Linked DNA regions of Homo sapiens: all the other regions are linked to region 2. The links come from fine-mapping of genetic effects on gene expression. A gene starts in region 2. Each other region holds a variant in brackets. All regions are shown on one strand. Distances are from middle to middle.

Evidence for each region. PIP is the estimated chance that this variant, and not a neighbour inherited with it, causes the effect.
Region 1: its variant is fine-mapped to the expression of RNGTT in whole blood (TOPMed, PIP 0.94).
Region 3: its variant is fine-mapped to the expression of RNGTT in neutrophils (Naranbhai 2015, PIP 0.95).

The regions. Positions count from the first base shown.
Region 1 is chr6:88,601,580-88,604,346 of GRCh38, reverse strand. No RefSeq gene overlaps it. Among named protein-coding and RNA genes, the nearest start is that of RNGTT, 360 kb to the left of the region's middle. The variant T/C (reference allele first, on the strand shown) is at 1,211.
Region 2 is chr6:88,962,116-88,964,882 of GRCh38, reverse strand. It overlaps RNGTT (RNA guanylyltransferase and 5'-phosphatase), which reads left to right and starts at 1,265. Exons shown (of 16, transcript NM_003800.5): 1 at 1,265-1,537. The coding sequence starts at 1,474. RefSeq lists a silencer at 968-1,202 and enhancers at 1,186-1,565, 1,920-2,767.
Region 3 is chr6:88,930,134-88,932,900 of GRCh38, reverse strand. All of the region lies in intron 2 of RNGTT (RNA guanylyltransferase and 5'-phosphatase), which reads left to right. Among named protein-coding and RNA genes, the nearest start is that of RNGTT, 32 kb to the left of the region's middle. The variant TA/A (reference allele first, on the strand shown) is at 1,713.

The sequences.
Region 1 (2,767 bases), 360 kb after region 2:
AAGCCAAAGCTACCTTCCAGAGTTTGAGCCCAGGGAGGGAACTGGTAGTGCTCTTAACATAAACAGGGGAGTAAGAAGGAAGAGCTGATGTGGGGCTGGGAGGAATAAAGGGCTTCAGAGCGTGATGAACTGGAGATGCCTTCAGGAGCATCAGATGGAACTGTCGAGGGGAGAATTTAGAACTGGAGCTTAGGCAGTCAGACTGCTGGCAAGATTTCAAGTCTGTCCACACAACAGCAATGGTAAAAGCAGTCAGTAGGAGGTATGAAGTAAAAAGAGGACTAGGGACCCCCACATCTGTGGGTATAAGAAAAAAATATAACCAGCAAAGAAAAGGCATCCAGAAGTAAGGAAAAGAAATTAAAGTCAAGAAGTAAAATGACACTCAAGAAGGTGCCGGCCCCCAGAGCTACAAGACAAAAGTTTTTTGATAGTGGAGGCAGAAAATAGTTCTGACTGCTCCAGGGAAGTCCTGGAGAGCCAAGGACTGAGAAAAGGACCTCGAATTTGGTTTCTAGGTGACCTGCAGAAGCATGATAGGGATGGCTGAAGTCGAGTGTTGATGAAAAGAGTCAGACTCTGTAAAATATTTTTAAAGATCTATTCGGAGCCAAATATGAGTGACCATGGCCCGTGACATAGCCCTAGGAGGTCCTGAGAACATGTGCCCGAGGTGGTTGGGGCACAGCTTGGTTTTATATATTTTAGAGAGGCATGAGACGTCAATCAAATACATTTAAGAAATACATTGGTTTGGTTCAGAAAGGCGGGACAACTCAAAGTGGGGAGGGGCATCCAGGCTATAGGTAAATTTAAACATTTTCTGGTTGACGATTGATTGAGTTTATCTGAAGACCTGGGATCAATAGAAAGGAAATGTTCAGGTTAAGATAAAGGATCGTGGAGACCAAGTTTTATTGTGCAGAGGAAGCTCTTAGCAGACTTCAGAGAAACAGCAGGTTGTAAAATCTTTCTTATCAGACCTAAAACGGTGCCTGGCTCTTAGTTATCTCCTGGATCTGGAAGGGAAGGGAGGAAAACAAAGGGGAAAAGTGATTCTCCATAGAATGTGGATCTTTCCCACAAGAGACTTTGCAGTGCTGTTTCAAGGTATGGCAAGGAAACATATTTTGGGGTTGAATATTTTGATTTTTTTTCCCTGTCTCATAATGTTATGCCAGAGTCAGACTGGTAAGTAAGTCATGATATA[T/C]AGAGTCAGATAAAACCCATCTGATGAGAATTTGTGGTTTGTAGGGCATGACTCCCTAGATCCCTTAGATAGGAATTTGGGCGAGATAAAAAAGTCAGAGCTTAGTCCTCACAAGAAAAATGAGAAAATAGGAGGAAATGGAGGTGATGGGGTTTGGAGTTAAATCTATGTCAACAGATGGATTAATACTCCCAAGGGTAGTGGGAGTATTGCCAGAGCTTTCCAACCACTGTCTCGAGACACCCTGCCATGTCGCCAGGGAGTTGTAGATGTCGATTTTCTCAGCCCACAGGGGTGGCCAGGATCTCTACCTACAGCCAAGGGATGCCTCTGGGCTCCCGACGGGGAGCACCCCGGGGCCCCTGGAGGCAAAAGCACAATGACCAACATCAGATACATAAAGTCTACATTTGTTCTCCACCATGGAGACTGGACGAGGCCAGCTGCAAGGCGTGACACTGCCCATTCTGGACAAGGGGCTCATAGAGCTACTGGGCACACGACCCAGGGTGTGGCTGATCAGAAAAGGGTGCCTGGGAGTCTGGGAAGGGCCCTAGAGGGTGGCACCAAGTCTCTGCCTTCACCTGTGACAGACCATTTTGGTGTCATTCATTTGGGTTACTGGGAGACTGACTGAACAATGCATGCACATGCTGCACATCCGGGCCTCATCATTATTTGGAAATAATTGATGTAAATAATATCGTTGGACTGGAAATCCATTTGTGTTATCACAAGAAATGTCAGTGAGAAATCACAAGAAATTTGTAGAAATGAGAAAAAGAAAAAGTAGATTCTTTAAATATAATTTCAACCATTGATATTTTTGAAAGGTTGCAAAAAATAGTTTTAATTTTTTCATCACCCACATGTGCAAGGTTTCTCATTGATAGTAACTACAAAGCATTTGAAGATACTATGATTCAGAAGTTTTGATTAGGATTTGAGGACAGCCATTTGAAGCATTAAGCCTGATGTTTAAAAAGGCATGTTCATGGACACAAGTTCAGGTTTCAGACTTAACATTTTAAAAATGTTTTATTTCAGAGTTTCCTACAAAGCCATATCTTCTCTGGGACTTTGTATTTTACTTTGTCTTATCACAATTATGTAAAGAAAATGTAATGAACCTTTTCCCCTCAACACTCACTTAGACACCCTAATTCTTTAGTTTACCCCAGGGTGGCATTCACATATTATCGTTTTCTATGTTTGCCATATTATGAAAAGGACTAAGAGGCATTGTTCTGATGGCTCAGGATTGAAGAATGGCAAGGTGAGAACAGAAGAAAGTTGAGAAGGTGAGGAACTTTACAACCCATACTGGGTAAGAAATCAAGTCGAGTCAGAAAGGGATGATAGCGGGGTGCATGGGATCTGATCCCAAGATCAGAAAGTACAGCTGGCTCCAAAAAGGTGAGGGAGAGTGGGGACTGAGATTGGCAAGGCACCTGTCTTAGTCCATTTTCTGTTGCTTATAACAGAACACCTGAAACAGGGTAATTTATAAGGAAAATGAATTTGTTTCTCACAGTTCTAGAGGCTGAGAAATCCAAG
Region 2 (2,767 bases):
GGGTCTGGGGATGGAAGGTTTTTACCACTTTGGGCATGGTACACACTCTATCAGCAGAAAAGGGAATTCATCGGAGATTATTTGGGTAGACTGATGGCCTTAAAGGAAACTGGGTATTATCTTGTTCTGTCAGGGGAGGAGTTTACACCTTCACTAACAGTTCTGAGCAGATGCAACAGCAGGACAGACCAGAAGTGTGACCTAACTCAGGCTGCCTCAGAGAGATTGCTGTTGGACTGCCTCTATTGATGGGACTCTTACTGAGGGGGTCCAGGCATTCAGGGGGTTGAGCGTCCCAGAAAGTTCCCCACCGACGCTTTAAAAATGTATTCCCTGCAGCCTTACGTTCTTGCAGTTCCAATATAGCATTGGTGTTTAAAGCCAAACTACATTATAATTGATTCGCCATCATCCAGCTTTATATTTAACACTTTAATCTGGTAACAAAGGAAAGGCTCGTTAAAGGACGGCATTTATAAAAATTTTTCAAGCACCTCTGCTTAACTCGAAGGGAAAATAAAAGGCACTGTTTATTTGGTAGGCCAAGGAGAACAACGCCACGAAGAGGTTCTCCACTGATCAATTCCTACCTTTGTCAATTATACCACATTAATTAGTAACTTTTTTTGGAGACATGGACCCTCTCAAACTCCCCAGTATGCTTTGAAACTTTGATCCAGAAATGTACAAACAAAACTCTAAGTGTTCTGGAATTAATTTCAGAAGCTTCATAGATCCTCGTAAGTACTCACCAAAAGAAAAATTCCCCATTTCTGGTACTCCAATCTCATGTCCTTAGAATTCTCCTAAGACTTGTTCCCTTGAACAACTTTCCCTAATTGCAAATCAAACCTAGATCCGGCTGGGACGCCAAGCTTGAGCTGTGGTAACGCTCAGAAGGCCTCTTTTCATCAGTAAAATAGATGCCTTAACGGAAGTGGCGGGCAATCTACGCATGGAAAGGCGCTTGGCTTCCCTCTTTTTTGGGTTTCTCTAGGTTGTCTGGATGGGAAAAAAATACACGCTTCGTCCTGCGGAGTTCGGTACGAGGGCAATTGCACATGCGCAAAGGCGAACCAGTAGCGTCCGGGCGCGTCCGTGGAGCGGGACGGGGCGGGGCGGGGCGGTGCCGAGTGGGGCGAGAGAAGGCCCGCTCCTCCCATTCGTCGCGTCCTTAACTCTTTGCTATCCTTCCGCTGAGCTTCCTCTTCTTTCCCTCTGACCTCGGAAAGGGGGCGGGGCTTTCGGGGGCGGAAGTTGCGGTGCATTGTGGGTTCTCCTGGAGCTGTGGAGTTGATCCTGAATGAAAGTGGCGCGCCGCCCCTGACGTTACCCGGATCGGAGAGGTTGGAATTCAGATTACGGCTGCGATTCGGGTGTCTCGGACCCCGGTGTGCACCGGACCACGGGGAGGCGGCTCCAAAGGCGCGGTGAACGTTGGTGAGGGAGGGCAGCTCTGCGCAGCCCCAAGACATGGCTCACAACAAGATCCCGCCGCGGTGGCTGAACTGTCCCCGGCGCGGCCAGCCGGTGGCAGGTAACCTGGACTGGGGGGCGTTCGAATCCCCACACTCCAACGTGCCCGGGGGTGGGCCGACTGAGGAGCTCAGCTTTTGGTGGTTCTGTGCCCATTAGTGGTATTTCAGGAGCGGGATATGCTCCGTCGGATTACGCTTCGTGGATGAATGGGAACATGAACGGGAGGGGATGGTCGGCGGATGGGGGGCACTTGTTACTATTCCTGCAAGGCTAACTGTGCGAATGTGAAGGTAGACAGGAGGTTGGTGGCAGGAGGTGAGGATCCAGGAATACAGTGGGCGTACTTTGAGTCTTAGTAGTTTGCGAACCTGTTAGGGTTCAACCTTCCCCTCGAAAGAAGGGATGAATATCAGTATTGAGATGGAGGAGGGTTAAGGAGGGAAGGGGCGGTTCCCAGCGGTGAAATGGGGTCACATTGAGACTGGGAATCTGGAGGGTGTTTTTGTTAGTTTTTTATTTTTATTTTCTTGTGAGACAGGGTCTCTTGCTCGGGCTGGGGATCCTCCCACCTCAGCCTCCCAAGTAGCTGGGACTACATGCTCCTGCCACCGCACCCGGCTAATTTTTTTATTTATTAAAGTATATATATATTTATAATGTATATATTTGAGACATAGTCTCTCTCTGTCGTCCAGGCTGGAGTGCAGTGGCGTGATCTCGGCTCACTGCCTCAGCCTCCCAAGTAGCTGGGATTACAGGCGCGTGCCACCACACCCGGCTAATTTTTGTTTTTAGTAGAGACAGGGTTTCATCGTGTTGACCAGGCTGGTCTCCAACGCCTGGCCTCAAGTGATCCGCCCGCCTCGGCCTCCCAAAGTGCTGGGATTACAGCCGTGAGCCACTGTGCCTGGCCATAATTTTTTTGTTTATTTTTTGTGGAGACAGGGTTTCACTGTGTTGCCCAGGCTGGTCTTGAACTCGTGGACTCAAGCGATGCTCCCACTTCGGCCTCCCAAAGTGTTGGGATTATAGGCGAGAGCCACCCCGCTTGGCCGGGTTTTTGTTTTTTTTAATTATTTTTCTTGTAGTTTTTTTCATCTTTATTGAGCTTGAATACAATAAGCTTTAAAGCGTACAGTTTGATAAATTTTGACTGTATATACACAAATATATCTCTTTCCTAGGAAACAACCATGAAACCCCTCAAAGTTTCCTCTTGCCCCTTTTTAAATCCCTCCTTCGCCTGGCAGCCACTGATCTGCTTTCTGTAATTATAGATTGGTTTGCA
Region 3 (2,767 bases), 32 kb after region 2:
TATATGCTTCAGAATGAGGTGGAAGATGTATGAATTTACTATTACTTTTTTTTAGCCTCAGTTTAGGTGTGCGTTTCTAAGTGAGACTATCTTGCTGGCTGATTGTGATTCTAGGTTTTAAAGATTTTTCATACTGAAGGGCCCTGAATGCAAATCAACTTCTTCAGCTCAACAGAAGTAATAATGGTTTTTGTTCCAATCCAGAAAGAAAAATTGGCTATAATCTGTTGGGGGAACCAGCCCCCAATATTTCAACGTAGGTTCTTTTCTATTTTCCCTAAATGTCGGCCGGTCTGAGAAATAAAGGGAAAGAGTACAAAAGAGAGAAATTTTAAAGCTGGGTGTCCAGGGGAGACACATGTCAGCAGGTTCCGTGATGCCCCCTGAGCCGCAAAACCAGCAAGTTTTTATTAGCGATTTTCAAAGGGGAGGGAGTGTACGAATAGGGTGTGGGTCACAGGGATCACATGCTTCATAGGGCAATAAAAGATCACAAGGCAGAAGGTCAGGGTGAGATCACAAGGTCAGGGCGAAACTAGAATTACTAAGGAAGTTCCCTGTCCCACTGTGCACACGTTGTCACCGATAAACATCTTAACAGGGTTCAAGAGCAGAGAACCGGTCTGACTAGAATTTGCCAGGCTGGAATTTCCTAATCCTAGCAAGCCTGGGGGTGTGCAGGAGACTAGGGTGTGTTTCATCCCTTATCTGCAACTGCAGACCCTCCTAGAGCGGCCATTTTAGAGGCCTACTCCTGGGAATACATTCTTTTCCCAGGGCTGTTAATTATTAATATTCCTTACTGGGGAGAGAATTCAGTGATATTTCTCTTACCTGTTTTTGGCAATAAGGGAAATATGGCTCTGTCCTGCCTGGCTCCCAGGCAGTTAGACCCAATGGTCATCTCCCTTGTTCCCTGAACATTGCTGTTATCCTGTTCTTTTTTTCAAGGTGCCCAGATCTCACGCTGTTCAAACACACATGCTTCATGAAAAATCTGTGCAGTTAACACAATCATCACAGGGTCCTGAGGCCACATACATCCTCAGCTTACGAAGATGATGGGATTAAGAGATTAAAGTAAAGACAGGCATAGGAATTTTACAATTTATATTCTTCTGCCATGGCTTCAGCCGGTCCCTCTGTTAGGGGTCCCTGACTTCCCGCAACAATGGTTGACTTATTGAGATGGGATTAAGCCTCCAGTAATATGCATATGGCCATGTATACTGTTCTTCATTGGTTACTTAAGGAATTTATGAGAGAATTTTGACTGTACATACTTTTTTACCCTATGTGTTAGAATTTAACTGCCCAAGGTGTGATTCTTAGGCATCACATGGTACCTAAAAATCATAGTGATTTTTGTCATTTTAGAAATAGACAATACGTTCACTTACTTCAAAAATCCACAAAAAAAGGTTGGTATCATGAAGTCTCCCTCTCACTTTTGCTCTCTATCTGCCTAGTCCCTCACCACATACCACACAGGTTCCACTGTTTTTAGATTTTTTAATACATCCTTTCAGAATTTCTTTATGTGTATGTAAGCAACTAAAAATACAGATTGCTGTGTTCTCCCCTGCACACTCAAGGTAGCACATTATATATGCTGGTCTGAAACTTGCATTTCCAGCTTAATAGTATACTCTGAAGATCTTCATATATTAGCACATAGAACTTCTTGTTCTTTTTTTTTTTTTTTTTTTTTT[TA/A]CAGCTTTATAGTATTCCATTAAAGTATGTACAGGTTGAGCATCCCTCATCCAAAAATATAAAATCTGAATCTTTTTTAGCACCTACATGATGCCCAAAGGAAATGCTTATTGGAACATTACAGGTTTTGGATTTTCATATTAGGATTGCTCAACCTGTAAGTATAATGCAAATATTGAAAAATCTGAAATCTTGAACACTTCAAGTCCCAAGCATTTCAGTTTAGGGAATCTTCTTACTACTTTACTTGGATGGTTTCTTTATGGAACTGGAAAATGTGTGCTGACATTTTCTGAAATTTACCAGCATGGGGTCATTTTTACTGCTTTTGTGTGTCTTCATTGCATTTTCCCCCTTGTATTGCTTCTGCTTCCCTGTAATCTGCCCCATCTTCTCCAGACTCCTTAGCTCTTGGGTAGATGAGAGATAGGTCTGCCACTTTATGGTGAGCTCTTTCTTACCGGAAATGTATTTTTATTGGCATTTTCCTAAAATCTGCTGCTCCTGGGTCTGCTTCTCTTTTCTTCCTTTCCATATAGCTTCTGTAGTGTTCTTAATTTTTTGGCAGAACTTAGACATTTTTTATGAATGTGTGGATTTTATATGCGTTCGTTTTACAGAAAATGAAACTTTTTTTTAAACAATTTACCTTGTTTTTATATGATACTGAAAGAATAGGAGAGGAAAATTTATTTAATTTTTTAATCTTTTTCCCCCCAAACACATGGTTTTTCAAGCGATCCTCTTGCCGTGGCCTCCCAAAGTGCCAAGATTACAGGCGTGAGCCACTGTGTCTGGCCAAATTTCCCGTACTACCATCTTCTTAATAAGATTGTCTCTATTTTTAACCTTGTTTCTTTTCAAAAAATGTAACTTGAGGCTTCAGTATATTTTCAGAAAATAGAAGAGTTGTTAATAACAAAGAAAGGGACATATATATAAAATATATATAATAAGATACATGTTTTATATGTATATATGTATATATGTTTATGTATATATGTATATACATATATGTATATGTATATATGTATGTACGTATATGTATATGTAT